Linked DNA regions of Homo sapiens: region 1 is linked to region 2. Evidence: fine-mapped expression QTL. A gene starts in region 2. The other region holds a variant in brackets. All regions are shown on one strand. Distances are between the middles of the regions.

The links. PIP is the estimated chance that this variant, and not a neighbour inherited with it, causes the effect.
Region 1: its variant is fine-mapped to the expression of VGLL2 in atrial appendage (GTEx, PIP above 0.99).

The regions. Positions count from the first base shown.
Region 1 is chr6:117,195,804-117,205,417 of GRCh38, reverse strand. No RefSeq gene overlaps it. Among named protein-coding and RNA genes, the nearest start is that of VGLL2, 65 kb to the left of the region's middle. The variant C/G (reference allele first, on the strand shown) is at 5,210.
Region 2 is chr6:117,260,386-117,269,999 of GRCh38, reverse strand. VGLL2 (vestigial like family member 2) reads right to left here and starts at 4,442. Exons shown (of 4, transcript NM_182645.3): 1 at 4,156-4,442; 2 at 1,509-1,818. The coding sequence starts at 4,236. LOC105377964 (a long non-coding RNA gene) reads left to right here and starts at 4,926. Exons shown (of 2, transcript XR_942911.3): 1 at 4,926-5,425; 2 at 6,817-7,738.

The sequences.
Region 1 (9,614 bases), 65 kb after region 2:
TTCATCACCTCACATAATTACCATTTTCTTTTATTGACGTAGAGAGAACACTTACAATTCACCCTCTTCTCCAATTTTAAATATATGTACAATGTATTATTAACTGTAGTCACTGTGCTGTACATTATATTTCCAGAACTTCCTCATTTTACAAATACAAGTGAAATAAATATGGACAAGCTGGAGGACTTTGGAGGGTGTAGGACAGGGAGGGAAAATGTTAAATAAATCTTAGACTCTTTCTTCTCCCTGACACTTTGCATAGATCAGTCACCACATTGTGGGGTGTCTTCCTTGAGCTGAAAAGAACTGGTATGCAGTGGGGGAGGTGGGGAAGCCCAGGGCTTAAAGGTGGCTCTGCTCTACCTACTTTGTAACCTTGAGAAACTAGACCCTGAGGCTGTCAGCTGCCTCAGTTGACCATCTGGGATATTATCAGGGATAATAAGTCCCTTAGAGGATTGTTTGAAGATTAGAAATAATGTTTTGGTTTTTTTTTTTGAGACAGAGTCTCGCTCTGTCGCCCAGGCTGGAGTCTAGTGGCTCGATCTCGGCTCACTGCAACCTCCGCCCCCTGGATTCAAGCGATTCTCCCGCCTCAGCCTCCTGAGTAGCTGGGATTACAGGCAAGCGCCACACGCCTGGCTAATTTTTGTAATTTTAGTAGAGGCGGGGTTTCACCATGTTGGCCAGGCTGGTCTTGATCTCCTGACCTCATGATCCGCCCACCTCGGCTTCCCAAAGTGCTGGGATTACAGGCGTGAGCCACCGTGCCTGGCCAAAATGTTTTTAAAGTGTCTGCTACACATTTGTTACTCAAAATACTATGGTTATTTCTTGAATCTGTTACTGTCCCTAAATTCAGTCTTTCAAAACCACTTTCCTAGACTATCCAACAGTTTTTTAGTTGACTTACCTACTAGTCTTTCTACATGATTAGACGCCAGAGTGAACTTTATAAAAAACAAATTTAATGTCCTTCCCCACGTGAAAATCTTTTGTATCTAAAGGACATCACGAGCTCTTAAGTCATTCAAATAACTTTAAAACCTGTCCCCAGAACACTTTAAAGACTCTCTTTCCTACGTGGTATTCCCCATCCCCAAGGCAGGCTTTATGGGAAAGTGGCAGTGCAGTCACAGAGTCCCTGCCCTGTAATGAGGCCCCATGCTCAACTTAATCCTCTGCTATGGACTTCTTGAAATTCTTAATGATTTTATCTTTGATCCTGTGTTTTGTAAGTGATGTCACACAAAACAACAGAGTGTAGCCAGGAGCAGCAGAGGCATGCCAGGTAGCAGATTGTACATGTGTGGGCTCAGGTCTGTGGCAGCAACAGTTGGGCAGTTGGTCTGGCCTACTGGCATGCATGTGCCTGGGGTACCCTGGGAGTCATTGGCCCCAAGGGGTGACCAAGGCTAGAACCTGGGCCCAGATTAGCAGTGGCAATGTCAGAGTAGAAGCAGAAGCAATAGCAGTGGCTGCAGTGGCAGCAGGGGCTATGGCTCTGGGAGAGAAGGGTTTTGCATGAGGCCAATGCCAGGACTATGCTGGTAAGCAGGCTTGCCTGCTGATCCCCGGAGTCCATCCCTGTGCATCTGTGCAAATAGGAATTCTCTGGCTTGAGTGAAAGGTCAGGAACTCTGGAGATCAATGATTAGGAACATTGTCAGTAAATCATTACAAAGTGGAAGCATACATAAGACATAGGATAAAAATGTCTCAGGGAATTATTAGAATTCTCCAAAGAATTTTGAATTTCTGGTTTTGAAAACTGCTGCAACATTGCAAAGCAAATATCCACAGGCTTATAAATAAAAATGAAATGATTATCACATTTGACAGAAACTAATGCTATTTTCATATGAAACTGCAGGTGAACCATTAATAGGAAAGAAAATTTTAAAATTAATTTTTCCTTATAATGGAAGCCACAGAGGTGAAATGCATAAACAGGTATTTTGAATTATATGTAAATTGTGAAATTGCTTTAAGTTTCTTGTATAATTGCCACAAGTTTCAAGAAATGATAGAGAAAACAAAAATGTCATTGCATACATTTACATTTGAAATTACATTTAAAAAGTTAAATTAAGACATACATGAAATTGATTTGCTTGAAGAGTCAAATCTTTAAAATATGGTTCTGCAAGGATCATCAGCTCTAGATATACCAACGTTTATATTATGAAATAATTTATCAGAAATGTATCCCAATGTTGCCATAGCCTGCAAAATAACCTTAACAATTCTATTAAGTTTGAAACAGTGGAAAGATCATTCTGAAGTTTAAAATTAAGTTTAAAACAGATCAAAATTTGTTTGCAATTTTGCATTTGCCAATAGTGACTTGCTTTTAATTATATTGTTTGAAAATGAAGTTGCTAAATGTGTCAATATTTTGAACTTACAGATTTGTAGAAAAATGACCAGAAAATCATATGATCAACCAAGATAGCATGTTAATAAGATATTATTCACTATGTTACATAAAACGATGATCCCTATATATATATATATATATTGCAATTTACAAGTTTACATTGTAGTCCTGTATCACAATCACTCCATTCCTTTTTGTTAAAAAAGGAAAAAGTTTTATATGTCGGTATATCTTTAACTGAACTTCTCCCCCTGCTTTTTGAACCACAGGCTTGACATTTTCAGTTTGTACCAGGTCCTACAAATTACATAACTGATCCTGCCCAGTCTCTCTAGCATAGCTCATCTCCCATAAGTAGCACTCACACACACTTCTTTCTACCGCCAGTGATGTCTTTCCTTTGGTTATGTTTTGTCTCCTGCTTACTATGTTCTTCCTGCCTCCTCACCTGTAAGAATCCTACTCAACCTTACATACTCAGCTCCACCTATGAAAATGCTATAGCATGGCTGGGCGCGGTGGCTCATGCCTGTAATCCCAGCACTTTGGGAGGCCAAGGGGGGTGGATCACGAGGTCAGGAGATCGCGACCATCCTGGCTAACACGGTGAAATCCCGTCTCTACTAAAAACACAAAAAATTAGCCGGGCGTGGTGGCGGGCGCCTGTAGTCCCAGCTACTCGCGAGGCTGAGGCAGGAGAATGGCTTGAATCCGGGAGGCGGAGCTGGCAGTGAGCGGCGATTGTGCCACAGTACTCCAGCCTGGGCAGAGAGCGAAACGCCCTTTCAAAAAAACAAAAAAACAAAAAATGCTATAGCACTTTGACCACACATTCTGTATAGCCTTACTGTTTTGTGCTATTATGACCTGTTTGTATGTTTCTCCCTTTTGCTAGACTCCGATCTCTTTGAGGGCAACCACTCTCCCTCTTTAATAGTTACTATTTCTTAGTACTTTGTACTGTGCTTTTCTTATTTTAGGAGTTTAATGAATATGATTAAGTATAGAGTATTGAGGAGAACAACAGTCAGCAAAACTGTTAATGAGGAGATGCAGATAAGTTGGCGAAGGCATTGACCAGGGTTTCTCCAGTGTGTCTGGTTGACTTAGCAAGTGTCCCTGTCCTCTTATTGCCTTACTCCTGAAGAAGTGACAGAAGAACCCAAGACCTGTTAGTCAGCAAAGGGGGACTGAGGAGAAGAGCGCAGCATCAAAAGGGATGCCAGGTGCAATGGCCCAGAAGCAGGAGAGAGCACAGTGAGTCCCAGGAGCTGAAGGGGTTTTCCTCCTCAAGGGGCATCCTTGTTCCCTGAGGAAGGCCTTCGCAGAGAGAGAAGGAATGGTTTTATGTCTAAAACCATTTTTAGCTTCCTTCCCATGACCTCCCAATAAGCTTTTTAAGATCCATCTCTAGATCAATAATAATGACAGTGAGATATTTCACAGTCAAAATATTTAATATCATGCTTAGGACTTTCCTTTATCATTAAAGTTTGGATCATTACATAAGCCGCTGGCTCATCTCCATCTATTAGCCCATTAGCTAAGTGGTGATGCTGTTGGTCCTATTGGGTGGTTCACTGAATTAATCAGTCTGTGTAACAGATGTTCTTTTCTGGGTATGTGGTAGAGGGGTGTGACTTAGGTCTGTAATCAGAGATGGTTTCCCTACCTTCCATGTTTAAGTCACAATAAGGTACAGGTAAGAAGGAAAGATCATAGCATATCCATTTCTACCACTGCTGGAAAAAACTTCTTATAGCCAATGCCCCCTTTATACCAAGAGGAACCCAAGTCTGGTTTTCTAGATCCAATGTGAAACTCATATTTCCCCTTGAGTGGGACACAGTTAATACACCTTAAGAGTTTCCCCGGGGTAAATTTTTTTTATTAGAGTTCAGAACTTTAATTAAATCTTTAAATATGGTGGTTGGTTGTAATATATATTGATTCTTTGATTTTGGGAACTGTAGGTAGCTAATAACTGTTCAAAAAATCTTCAGAAAATAACTCAAAGATTTTATGCTGTATGAGGTCGCAGGCTTCTCTGTCTTTTCTGATAGAGACTGTTTCATTCTTATATGTTCCTTTTTAGGTATCCTAGAGAGTCAGTCATAGAAAAGACAAACACATTTATAAATGTGCTATTTTTATTTTTGGCTCTATAGACTACCTTAACATATGGCAAAGTTTCTATGAAAGAGGATATGAAGGCCCTAGAAAGTTGGGGAAACATGAACATATAGCCAAATTTAGATATCTTAAAAACAACAAGGTGTACTTACAAGCTTAAAAATAATTTTCTCAGTAAATCTACAAATAATAATCAAAAGGATGAGAGTGGGGAGTGTAGGAGTTCACTCTTTATAGATATTTATTTAAAAAGCCCTAATGAGAAAGTGTGAAACAAGAACAAGGAGCAATTTTCTACAGAGAGACAGAGAGAGAGAGAGAGAGAGAGAGAAATACTATGTGTTACATGCTGAGAGTGTCAAAGGACTGTAAAGATGTACCCATTTTAAAAGTTTTTAATGAAATCATATATCGAGGTGAACTACATTAAAATTTATTTTTCAACCATTCTAGAAATGATAGTCCAAGTTGGCATGTCAAGACTGGTAGGTCACGCACTATTCACTGTAGCTCAGATTGCTGGGAGTCACATCCTCCTTGTTAGTTTCAGGTGACAGCTCACTGTACAGGGGAGATCCACTTGTAGAGAAAGAGAGAAGAGGGATAGGAAGATTTAGCACTGCATTTTCACAGGGCAAGAAATTCCAACCTAGCTCCAATGTGTGTTGGCCCGTTGCCTGGGATCTTGTTAAA[C/G]ACATGACCATCACTCTTCTGCCTATTTCTGGCCTGGATTTGGAGCTTGGTGTCTAAGCAAACCCCACTGGAGCTAAAATTAGGCAGCCAAATTGTGACAAGACATACTTGTCTTCAATAAAGAAGAGACATCTATTTAAAAAAAATGGATGTATCCGTGGGTCAACGTAAGTCACACGCATCTTAGCAGACTGTTTTCATTATGCAGAAACAAAATTAAAATAGACCAGCTAACTAGACTGACTGCATTCTGGCCTTTAGCCATTTAATATTGCCAGAGTAGCCCAATTCTGTTGCTAATGGTCCTGTCTAGCTGTAGGAGAGTTTAAGGAGTAAAAGCAAAATAATGAACTATTGACATGAATGATGAAAAGCAGAGCAAACATATATAACCATATATTTTAGATGAATGTAATTTTATGATTTCAAAGTTTGGAGGCCTTTTATATCACAGGAGGAATGTGTTGGGGTTTGAGAATCAAGGCATTCTCTTTCATTTGACTGGTATCTTATAGAAGCGGAATTATCATTGAAATTATAGCAAAGGACAGTAACAACAATTCTTTATATTTGTGTGACATTTTTACCTTTTAAAATATTTTTACACTTATTTCTCAAACTTCTCACTAAATATCTTTTGACTGCCCACTTTATGGGTATTACCATAAATGGTATCGTGGGAGAAATCAGTGATGAATCAGAAATTTTTTCTCCCATCAAGGAGCATAGGATCTGTTTTTAGAGGCAAAAAATAAATGCAGGAAAAATTAAACAACCACAACAAAAGAATTCAATGGCAATTTGAGCTCATAGTAGAAGAGCTACTTAAAAAGTAGTAATGATTAACTGTTTAACTGCCACATGTCTTCCATAGAGGAATTTAGAGGAAAATAATCACTTCTGTTTTCATTGATTATGGAGGAAGGAGTTCCAAGAATATGTAGAGGTCCATGGAGATAATGATGCAAAGAAAACAGGGAGACTAGAAGAAAGGTTTCAGATAATGGTGGGTACATTCTTTTGATGGAAGCTTATGTAGGGAATTAGCTGTCTTCACACTGGATGTGTCTATAGCAGGTGTGCACCTTTATATTTACTTGAGAGATTAAGCCTTGCTAAGTCCAGAGGAAGCCTGAAGACACAGAGCCTGCTGTACCTCTGGAAGGAACTCGAGCCTGGGCAACCAGACTCAGGCTGCTACTCTTTCTATCACACAATACTTAAAATCACAGCCAAAACATAAATAAGCAAAAAACTAAATAGAATCAACTAAATAACCCCTCCCCTCCAAATGTAATCACTTCAGAATTAAAGGATCCATTCTTCCTGGTTATGGTAGGTTTATTCTTCCCTTTCAGTTATAGCCACGACCCATCCCATCTCTCTTGATGCCTTCAGAACTCAAATACAGTTTATGACGAGGTTTCTAGAATGGGCACCTTCCTGTAGATGACCAACACCTCCGTTACACAGGAACTTTCAGGCTGGAGATACTTCCTACCTGTAATAAATTATTTCAACACTTCACTATTGAGAAGATTTAATTCATTCTCAGTAGTGACCAACAAGGACAAAAGACATTTAAATATGTTGGGCTCAAAAGACATCATGTTTTAAAAATTACTATGTTTTTGTATGAGTAAGAAAATAGGAAATTGAAAAAGGTTTTGCTAAGCATCTTTCATAATCAAAATTTCATGGTTTGATTTTATAACCAGACTGAAACAAAAGATGTTTATTCTATGAAATGGCTTTTGCCAAGATTGCAGTGACCTTGTTGTTAAAACTAACAGGCACACTTCAATGCTGATTTCATGTGATCTCTCAGCAGCATTCAAGTGATGACACTCCCTTCTTTCTGAAATGTTCTTTTTCATTGGCTGCTGTAACACCACACTCAGTTTTCCTTCCACTTTGACCCCTTTCTTTCAGTGTCCTTTGCAGGGTTCTCTTCTATTACCTGTGCCTTAAATATTAGGATCATTTGGAGTTGTGACCTGGGCATTTTGTCTTATAATTCTGTATACTCTCCTTGAAAAAATCCATCTGTTTCCATTGTTTAAATTAACTTTTCTATGCCCATGACTTCCTTACATAATTCACTCATGTGTTCAACTTTCTACTTCTACATCGAAAAGTCTACTCTCTACATCCAAAATTCTGTTTGGAATTTTCATGAGCACCTAACTATAGCCCCCTACCATCTCTGCCCTTCTTCCAGGGCACCTTCAATCTGCACATTGCACCACCAACCCACCAGCCACCTACACCCCTGTGTCAGGACGGAGCTTTTGTCCTGTTGACTCCTTGTCACTTCTAATCCTCATAGCTGGTGAGAGGAAGAGAGCTAGCATAATTATCCCAAAGTTATACTCTGGGAGGAAGCAATGTTAGGAAGAGAAAGATGTGTTTATACTGTAGATTCTGTGCTCTGAGAAATACCAGGATCCAATATTGCCATCCCAGCATGGAGGCAGAACTTGGTTTTGCCAACCTCTAGCAAAAAGTGTTGGAATCAGGATGCCTTTACATTCTTAATTGCTATTGAGAACCCCAAAGAGTTTTTGTTTATGTAGTTATATCTACTGATATTTATCATTTTAGATATTAATATTGACAAAAATAAAATATTCATTTATTAATTTATTTAAAGTAACTCATCCATTATACACTAATATAAGTCACATATTTTATAAAATATAACTAGATTTTCCAAGACAATGTTATTTTAGAAAACAGAGTGGGATTGTTCTTCATTTTTCCAAGTCTCTTTAGTACCTGACTTAACAAAGGACAGCTGGATTCTCATGCCTGCTTCTGCATTCAGTCTGTTCTAATATCACATGTTGTACACTCTCTAGAAAACCCCGCTGTTTATTCATACAAGAGTAAGAGTGAAAAAGACAAATAGCATGTTAGTTACAGTATGAAAATAGAGTTTTGGCTTCATGGAGTCCCCTAAAATGTTACAGAGAGCCTTAGCGTCACCGGAAGCACATTTTGAGAACCATTTCCTCATACTTTTCTGATTTCTCTCATAGTGTTGGGCCCAAAGTAGATGCTTAATGTGTACTTAGCTACCTATAGAAATTGAAATGTGGTTTAATTTTTTTTGCTTGTGATTTAGTTATTCCTGTGCATAAGAAGATGCAGAAACCCATCAGCTTCCAGCCAATTTAGAATTATAATGGTTTACTTTGTGAAACAATCAATGTTTGTGGAGGGATGCAGAAAATATGGAACATATACATTGCATTGTCATGTGAGGATGGCCGTGCATACTTGAGAGGGAGAAAGCTGGGATTGCAGGAATTTCAGGAACCTGAGAGGGTGTAGAGAGGAGTGGATTTGGGGCCAAGGCTTGGTCTATTAGTACAAGAAGTGCTCAGTCAATGTGATAGTAATGCTCAAGAGTGTGGAGTGGGAGTTGGCGCGATCTAATCGGTTGTGGAAGACCCACTTGCAAGGCTGGAATGGAAACTTGTAGAGAGTAATTTTCTTTCTAATCATGTATAAATCTCAAATGACTTGGCTTGCTATTAAAGTATTTCCAGACTTTTTATGGCATGGATATAATATCTAATAAAGTTTAGTAAAAGATATAGAGATGCCGTGTAATTGGGTACTCCTGAATCCTCTTAGAAATGGCCTTTGCAGAAGAGCTTACGAATCAGATTTGGTAATAAAACAGAATCATGTAATCAGAGGGACATGACAGATTTGACTGTAGGAGCTGTGCCCAGAAACTTCCCAGCACGAACTTCTAACAAGCCAGATGAAAGACTTGCTAACGGGATGTGTTGCTTTGAGGGCACTTTTCCTAAATTCCTATAAATAGGAATGAAAAGTTCCTTAGTATTTTATGGAGTATGTGACAACTTTAAGTCATGGATTGGTCTGTAGGAAGGGCATGTGAATGAAAAGATGTTCCTTAAGAAGACCTTCAAAAAGTCTGTAAAAGTACTAATTGACTTTTCAGAGCTTCAGGACTGTTTCTTTAGAAAAACATCAGAACAGACTAAAGAGAAAAACCAAGGCATCAATAACGTTTGCAGTGAATTGATGGTCAGCTTTTGTGCAGGGTCACTGAAGTGACTGTAATTCTTTGGTTAAAAATCAGACATCAGTAATAGGAAGGAGAAGAAGGGGAGGAGTGCTACACACTGATAAGAACTTTTAAGGATTTACGTGTCAAAGAATTTCCTTGGTCAGAATGCATATTTGGCCTTTTTAAAGGAACTAGAAAGCAGGTGAGCTTCTGAGTCATCGCCTTGAGTTGCTCAATTTGGGAATGACCTTGACATGGAGAAGCTAAACCACTCTGCTTCCTTTGAAGCTAGCTGTTAGCACCAGAGGTGTCCTGACAAAGGGAAAATGAGATTTAAGACTGGCCAAGATGGTGGAA
Region 2 (9,614 bases):
AAAGTCCATCGACATATTTTGAAGTCTTGCTATTGTTAGTTTTCTTTCTAGAAACCTTCTTTCAAATATTTTTCTCCAAAAACTCAAGCAAAAGAGTAAACTAGTCGCATTAAAGGGCAGCTCTATTATTTGCACAGAAGGACACGAATAGACAGGTCTTTTATCCTAAGTTTTCATTAACTTTTGTATCAAAACGAGGACGCCAGGGATAATAATAATTATTATTACTATTGTCAGTGTCACTGTTGGTTCCTAGCCCGTGACAGCATTTTAAGAGAACAGCGTTTAGATCAAATTTGTTGCCATTAGTAAGAAGGGAGAGAAAGACAGATATTTAATTCATGGAACCTTTATGGAACACCTCCTCTGTGGAAGGCATCTGCACGATAAACTAGAGAATTTTAAATGATTTGAAAATGCATTCTAAGTGGTGAAGAGTCTTCCTGTTAAACATATTTAGGCAGAGAATAAAAAGAATGTTCTGTATTTAAAATGAATGTTTTTTGGATCTTGTCTAAGGGCAAGCCTTATGCAAACTGCCAGCGTCTCTTAAGGGGGAAAAAAGGGGGTGAAGGTTGTAATTTCCCTCCCAAAGACAAATGAAAATTTGTTTTTGTTTTTACAACAAAGTCCCCCTTTCTCAGCTTGGTACACATCAAATACAGCTTAGTGAGCCAAGTTTACTTAATGGTTCCCCCACCTTTGTTTTGTTGGTAATAAAGGGAAGTTGAGATTTCAGAATAGAAGGGAGATTTAGTTGAGTTGTCCAACAAATAATTGTCCTAGGGTAGAAAAAAGCAGTGCTTTGTGGGGGAAGGTAGAAAAATAAAAAGGGGATGTGTTTTGGGAAAACTCTTAGAGGTGTTCTGGCTGTATCTAAATTTTTGTTTCTTTGTTATTTTACTTGCTATTGAGACGCTTCTGCTTCAAGATTTCTCAAGCAATTGGAGCCTGGTGAAAGGCAAAGGTAGGTTTTAGGAGACATTCTCAAACAGGTTTTGCTTGCATGGAGCTCTAGAACTGTTTCCTCTGGGAAAATGTTGGCAGATTGGGAAAGTGCTCTTTAGAGTGAAGCTCCTTCACTCACTGGTTTGGGAGGGTGCTGGAAACCTCACGTTTTTGACGGCATATTTGCATCCATTTTCTTGTTGGAGTCTTACAGCCTTCTCTGGGGTTAGGAGGGTAAGTGTTATTCTACTTTAAGAGAGCAGTAAATAGAGTGACCTCAAAGAGGTTGAGACTTGCCCAAGGTTATATTGCTAGGAAGTGGTGGAACCAACACACAAACCTAGGTCTTCCAATTCCAAGGATAGTGTTTTTTCCAAGGAGTTTTTTCTTATATCCATGCCCTTTACCCCTGCGTTTTCCTTACCCTTTCCAAATGCTCCTCTGCACACCTTCTCTGACACCTAATATTCTTTTCAGCTGCATGTTTTTAGGCTCCTGTAGGTGAACCCCAGGCTGAGAGGACCCCCTATGGGTCCTTCCCAGCAGGGCCCTATACTCACCTCGCCAGGGCCCAGAGCTCCTTGGTGCTTTGCTGCTGGTACAGCTAGGAGAGTAGCTGCTGGGTTGGCTCAGGGCCCTGCTGAAATGTTCATCCACCACGGAGCTGATGTCCCCCTGGAAATAAGTGAAGAGGACGCAGCGGGAGTTGATGTACTCTGCCTCTGGTGGGCGCTCTTTCTCTGGGCTGCCTTCTTCCTCTTTTATACTGGCTGGGGTTTGGCTGGAAAATGAGGAGCTGCCGCTGCCACTGCTGCTGGGGCTGGCATTGCACTCCTGCGCTTCCTGCATTTTGGAATAATAGGCTAGTTTCTGTTCAGAGAGAGAAAGAACAGAGATATCAATTTCAAAAGCGATGGCAAATTCGGTTCAGACTGATTCCCTCATCCTAATCTCTAAGGTATTTATGGGGAAACTGGCATATGGGCTTAAGCCTTGTGCTGTTAGCATAAAACTAGCAATAGCGGGGCAACATAGTTAGCAGGCCTCCCAACCTGCACCCAAGCAAGGACGGGCTTCCTTAAAGGAAGATTGCTGTCCTTGGTCCCTCTGACTCCTAGAAAATTTCTCCTAAAATGTCTGGGTGAAGGTTTCAGGAGACACCTAAGCAGCTAGGTTTAGAGCTGAGTTTGACCTCATAGCTGGGCTCAGGGCAGATATATTTTTAAAATCAGACTCCAAGGGTAAAGGGCACCCAAGTCCAGATAGAGCCTGACTGTTCCTTGCCTGAGAATCCAGGGCAGAAGCACAGGATACAGGATAAACATCCTCCTGATGAAATAGGAGCGGGGGGCAACCCCCTACCCCTACAAAATCCACTCCCTGAAACTAGGAATGTGTGAAGGAAAGCAACAGGAATGTAAAGGAAGAAATGCCACAAAAAGTTTGAAATAATTACATTTAGTAATGAATTGTGTGGGGTAAAAATCTGGGGTAACATGACTGGGGAAACACGGATCATTTTAATAAATGCAAGTTGATTTTTTTTTTATTATCCCTATATCAGTTTTTAAACAGATCTTCTCTTTAATAACGAAAGACCAGTGGATTACGAGTATTTCCACCCCCATCATCTCCACACACATTGAGGAAATGATAAAAAGGAGCAGACAGAAGAAAGTTAAGATCCTGGCTGTGAGGTGGGGTAAATCGGCATGTCTCATAGTGATTTTAAAAAGCAGGCGCAGCTTCTGTGAACATTTTCTTAGAAATGAGCAATGGACTGAATGAAGTGTTAAAGCATTCTGCAGGCAGAGATGGCCTTGAAGAGGCGGCCCGAGTCATACAAAAATGAACAGAGATCTTCATGCAATAGATTGGTTCGGGGTCTGGGAGAAGAAAGGGCCAGTCAGAAAACCAATCCACCTCTCTCCTCTTTGCTTGCCATAGTCCCACCCTGGGAAGAAGTACATTTCAGAAGCTGGAGCCAAAAGGTTTGAAATAATTGGGGACAAAACGATGTAAGATTTAGCAATATCACCACTTCCTAAATGCCACCTTCCCTACAAGAGGAACTCTGGTGATTCTTAAAATTAACACTGAGGCAAAACAAACTGCAAGTTGTGAAGTTTAAAAGAGAAGAGGAGGTAAGAAAACAAAAAGTGAACCCTATCCGGTCCATCATTAATTTATCGGGAAATTTTCGAATAGACATTTTAAATTTGCAGGCAAAATTAGCAAAAGCATCCACTGGGGCATTGGGGTGTATTTCAATTTCCCCAAAGCAGGTGACCAAGCTCTCACTTTCCAACCTGGAGGGGACCCCTACAGCCTCCCAGGTGTATGATTTCATTCTTTTCCTGCACTACTGTCCTCAGTTTCTGCTACCTCAGCTGAGGAAATGGAAGGAAAATGGTTCAAACAGACGCAGCCTGAAGACAAGAGAAACTGGCAGAATTAAATGGAACTTGAAGAGTTTGCAGAACCCGGGTTGAGTGGTCTTCTTAAAGTGTTTGTTGGAAGCAGGGCTTCCCCATTCACCTACTCAGGCTGGAGAAAGGCAAAGTATTGTCTATCAGGCTCGCCTCTGCCGGGTCATTCGCACTCCGGATAATGCTCCCAGAACTTCGCAAAGGAAAAAATTATAAAACTGCGCGGTGCTCTTTGAAATGAATTCTCTGGATCTGGAATTAATTGCCCTGGTCGCCAGAGAATTGAAACGGAAGAAATTATTCCTGAGATAAACTTGCAGGGATGAGAACACCGGCCCTTGCATCTCAGAAAGAGGCTGGCTGGCCTTCGCTTTTGGTTTTGTTGTTACTCTCACCATTGGGACCAAAGTTTGGTTTTTCCTGCGTCAGCTTTGCCTGCATTTCCTGGTACCTGCACCTGGCTTGGAAGAATCTGGAGTCCGACAGACCCTAAGAAGAAAATCCAGCCCGTGCCATCTTCCTCTGATTATTCCAGGGAAGACCTAGGCTCACATTAGCAGGGCTTAGCTGCTTCCCGAGAGCAAACAGGCGAGCTAAAGGGGTTAGCTAATTGCACTACCAACTGGGGGCGGCTCCGGCAATCCCCGCATCCCGGCTGCGCCGGTCGTGGTCGGACGCCCGAGACGCGCGGAGGCACAGCAGACCTTGGCGTACAGGCCATGCCGCCGCAAACGGGGGGCGCGCACTCCTTCCCAAAGTCCCCAGAGGAGACACGTACCTGGTGGTAGGGGGTGTAGGCGGCTGCGAAGTAGGGCTGCGGAGGACCATAGACTTGGTACATAACATCCAGACAGCTCATGACTCTCCGCAGCGGAGACGGTTAAGTGTTTTTTCATTAACTCTCCTTCCCCGGAGCTCAGGGGTGCTGCATGGGCGGCGCTTGGACCCGCGCTCTGGAGTCATCAGGCGGAGCAAAGCCAGCGCGCTCCGCGGCTCGGAATCCAGCTGGCTCGCTACCCTCCCACTCCTGCGATTTTACTCCCGACCGCGCTCCAGGGCAGAAGCGCCTGAGCTCCCGCTAGTGGGCATTTAAAGCCCATGCCCGGCGGGCGTGCTGACGCCACTCGGGGGCTGCGGAGCGGGAGGGGGCGGTGGGGGGCGGGGACCGGGGGGCCAATGGGGAGCGAGGGACGCTTGTTGGAGGGGCAGCGAGTGTGTTTCCCGGGGCCCACCTCTGACAAGCATGCGGCCAAGGGTGCCGGAGACTATGCGGTTCCCAGCGGATCCGAGGCTTCGCACCGCGAGTAGGAATCTCCCAGGACAAAATAGGAGAGAGAGAGAAAGAGAGAGAGAGAAGGAGGCGGGGACGAAGGGATCCGGGCTCATACACGCAGAGAAAGAAAGTTGGAGAAAGGTCTCTTAGGAAAGCCCTTGTCTCATACTGTAGTTGAGTGGGTGCTTCCAGAAGTGCCGAGGTGGGGCAAATTCTCTGCTTTCGGTTCCTGATGATGTATGGGGAGGACGGTGCTGTCCCTTGGAATCCCCTAGGGAGTCCGGGTCGTGGCAGACAGGATGTGGGAGTCCGGGTACCCCTCCAGGGCGCAGAAGAGCTACCTCTGCGGGGAAATGGCAGTGGCTGAAACCTGTAACCGCTGTCCTCTAATCCACTTCCTTTCGCTCCCTCTAACCTGGTCCTCCCGCCGCCTGTCCCACACCCCAATTCTGCTCTCTTGGGCCGTGCCCTTCTGCCCCTCTAAAGTTCGATCCTGCTCCTTTCTCTTTGATGTTCTCCACCGGAACCCGTTAGCTTCGCATAGATCGCGCCCGCTTCCGGCTGCTCCCGGTGTGAGCTGCTTTCGAGGAGTCCAGGAGGCTTTACCCGGCCTCGGATGTCTGGCTTTTCATGCTGGGGTCTCCTTGGCCGGGGTCCTTTAAAGTTTTGGCAACTTTGGGGACAAGGACTCGTTGGCGCTAAGAAGAAGCATACTAGGACCCGTACACAGAGAGGTCTTTTGCTGCCTATTCAGCCGGTAATACCAGCTGCGATGGTATGTTTCATTTTGGAGAGCTGGAAGTATATGCACTCCAACTATAAAACCTTCACCCCTTTCTCTCTCCGGCCCTCCCTGAGAGGTCTGCTGGCTTCGCCCTCCTTCCTGCGACCCTACCCATCCTTCTCAAGCCTACCCCCCACCAAGCCCTCTGGAAAGGGGGTGTAACAGTGGAGTCTTCAGTTCTATAAGTTTAGGAATGCATTGAGACAAGGCTATCTCCATGGCTGGGTCAGGTGGCGGAAGGGGCATTACGGGAATAGAGGCGGGCCAGACTTGGGGGGACCAAGGGAACAGGTTGGGAGCATTAAGAGTCTAGACTCAAGAAAGAGGCAGCATGGATTTCAAACCCTAGTTATTCCCCAGCTTAAATACAACAGAAAGTCTTTATAGAGTCTCAGGCTATAAGACTGTGAATAAATGAACCCTTGAAGATCTATTTGTGTTTTAAAAGTGAGTATTTTAAGCCAAATTGTTTTAGGGTTGCAGTTTTGGTGTTGCCCAATTTATAGATGGGAAATGGCTCCGTGTCTCCAAATGCTTGTAACTGGTGAGCCATCTTGAGCGATTCGACAATTTCCTTAATTAACAACAATGTAATCTATGTAAAGTTTTCTAATCAATGAAAAGTTAAAATAAAGACACTCTTCTAGTACATTTCCATGCAAGCCTCTTTTTAGGGGCCAAGCTGCCTGTTGGATGAAATCTGCCAGCTTCTGGAGCTTCTGATTATCCAGGCGCAAGGGTGAAGCAGAACATCCATCCCACCTCCACCCCAATGTGCCCTCCCTAGGCGTTTCTGAAGATAGGTACAACCACCTATCATCATTTTCTTTGGGGCAAGAGAGGAAACCCTCATCCAAAGAGCCACAGTACGCTCTTCTGTGTGCGGGAGATGGGGAGTTCAGGTCCCAGTCTCGCTGGCCGCTGCTGCGCACCCTTTCTGCTGGGTCGGCTTCACCCAGGCCCGCAGGAGTACAGGTGTCAACGCAACCATCGCACCAGGGACTCCACGGGGCGGGCGGGTGTGGCCCCGGAGGGTCCGGTCCCCCACTTTCGCGCAAGTCCCGCAGTCCCTCCTTGGACACGGAGGTTCCGTTTTGGACATCTCTGGGCGTGAACATCGGTGGCTGAAGCCGGCTCCTTTTCGAGCAGCCTGGGCTTGGCAGTGTTGTGCAGGGGGAATGGGGGTTGGTGGGTGGGAAGCGGCGGAAGGCAAGCTCCACTAGCATGTCCAACCAATGCATGGAAACCCTGCTTTTGTCCTTGCTCACCTTCCAGTAGCTACCTCCTATTCCCAGTACCCGGTCACTTTGACATTTTTAAATTTTACGATGGCTATAGTACTAGAAGACCTTTTTATTTATTTATTTATTTGCAATTTCCAGAGAAAATCATGACAACCTCTCCAAGTCCAACAAGGCCCAACAGAAAGTTATTTTCGGAAAGGATTACAGGAAGAACGATTTTGCGTATCTCAGACGAAGAAATTGAAGAGAACATTATTCTAGTTGCCTAAGGCTGCTTTACATTCACATTACTCAATCTCCTCTTACTTGAAACAATTTTAAAAATCTCACTGAAGCTAAGCGAGGGTATGGACTGCACAGGAGTTCGAAGGAACACAAGGAATTGGGTCAGTGAGCATCAATCTAGAATTTAGGAAGGAAACCATTTTATTCCCCCTAAATCCACAGTGAAGGAAGAAAAACAAACATCCCAGAGTTTTAAAACACGTCCCAAAGATTGGAGAATGTTTCGTCTTTTCTCTATGTCTGAAAAGTTGTCATTTACAGGAGGGTGGTACTTCTCAATCGCATGAGATTGCCTCTTGTTTCTACGCTGAAGCGGAAAGTAAAACACAGCTAAATTTGATCCCCTTTACTCTCCCAGCCATTCAAACCACCAGCACATTATCAAGGTTGAAGAAGTTAGATTTAGATTCAGAGTCTTGGGAATGGGCTACAGGTTGAGAAAATTATCTTTCCTTCCCTCTGGAGTCCTCTTCCTCAAGAAGAGACTGAAAAACAAACAGATGTCCCTGAATTTGGGCCCGAAGCCCCCAGTGAGATAAACTGTTCCCAGTTGCGTGGAATTGGCTTTTAACTCCTTAACTGGGCAGAGGGAGTATCAAAACTTCTCTTTGAAAAGAATTTCACTTTATGATCGATTAATGGCCATTTATTGAACTGCTAGGAAAGAGCTATATGAAAGTAAATTGCACCAAAATTTCTTTTTTAATATCCTAGTTCTATTCTGCAATTCTAACAGCATCTATACTGTGAAAATAAAGACACCTTTAGTCTTGAAGTTAATAAGTGAAATTAAATTACTTTAGCACAAGTAAATGTTTCAAGATAGCAACTCAATGAAATACCTGTTTTCTCTTCAGAAAGGTTTACCTCTCACTTTCGTAAACTAGCTGATTTCATTATCTCTGAATCTATCTGTCACTTGTGTCGTCTTATTCTGAAAACCGCAAAGACACTGCTTAGCAAGGATACTTGAATAGAACTGATTTGGAGAACTGACTTGCAGCCAGCCAGGCCCTTCGTTGCCAGTGGTTTATTTAAATCATGAGTTGGCATTTCATGTTGCCAACCGAGGGGGATAAACACAATGGTAACCTCACAGATTTTCCCCCACAAACTCATTTTTTTCATGTTTTACTGACAGGAGTTGTGTTTGGATTTGGGAGAGTAGCTGAGAAGATTTTGTGGATTCAAGCTGTTAACAATATTAGTTAAAAACATTTCTGTAAAAGCCAGGGTTTTCAGGCATGATCTGTTAGTTAGGAATAATACTGTAGTAATGGACTGAATGGTGATTTAATTTTAAAGAAAAAAAGGGGGAAATAGAGAAATCCATGCATCCTGAAACCTCACTAAAAAGCTAAGTGGGGAGGAATTACAGTTTGACTTAGTGAAAAAAATAAGTAAAAGATGGTTCAGTTATTTTCATACAAACTTTGAGTAGCTCTTAACAGTGCTTCCAGGTAAAAATCTTCTATAGTCAGTTCAAATGAATAGATAAAGTTACTTTTATTGACATATAGAGGATTATTAAAAGAATGTTGAACTTTTCCTTCTTTACATATTTAAAACCCTATTTTTATGTTATGTACATGTCAACTTTAGCTTTGGTGAAATAATTGCAATCTTTTGAATTTAGTTTATCTTGTATTCATGTTAACATTTGTGCCCATTTCTAAGACTGGGGAATATAACTAAAACCGTATTCATCTTTTTAGAAATGAGTTCTTTTTAATGAGTCTCTATGAAATGGTTATATAAAGATAAGATTATACAAATTCAATTCATGTGACCCAATCCTTTAACAATGGTAACATACAAATAGCAAAAAAGGGACACTTAAAATAGATGTGTGTCAAATGTTTTGCCTTGTCATATTTTCACAAGAGAAAAAATTAGAAGGAAATTTACATTGTATAAGATATACTTGGACATGCATAGCTAAGTCTGAGAGCACATATCAATTATTTCTTAATAGGAAGAAATTGCCTGTCATCTCTGCTTTGCCTGGAAAAGTAGCTCTAATTGCTTATAATTTCTGATGCTATCATTTGCTTTTCTTTAAAGACACACAGTTTGGAGAAAGCCTCACAACTAACATATTTGTGAAACTACTTTTGTAAGATATAGGGAGATAGAGGAATTTACAGATTCAGAAAGTGGAAGTAGACTTAAAGGATTTAAACTGTTGACTTAGATATTTGACAGTGTTGGTGTTGATCCATTCTCAAACTTCTGTTTATAAACTTGATTTCAGCAGGATGCTGAAGGGATTAAAAGGAGACCACAGCAATAACAGACTGAAGGTGAAGATATCCATCTGAGTGTGGAGTGTGGTGTCCTGTCACTTGTATCAAGAGCTCTTAAAACAGCTTTTAAACAATTCTCATAGGAAGTTTTTCTTTGCATGCATGGAATAATTTTTAGCATGGAATGCTACACTGCCATTGTTTGTTTTATTTATTTGGCACTTAAAAATAATAAAACGAAGTGCTGAATGGAGGCAACCATACCAACACATTAGAAAGAAACAAAGGTCCTTTTTACATTGGAAAGCAGACCTCAAAGCTATGGAGAGTTACCTTGGCAGAAAGGAAGTGTGAATAGTAGTCGTTAAATTGAAATACTTTTAATTTTTGTTCTTAACTTCATAC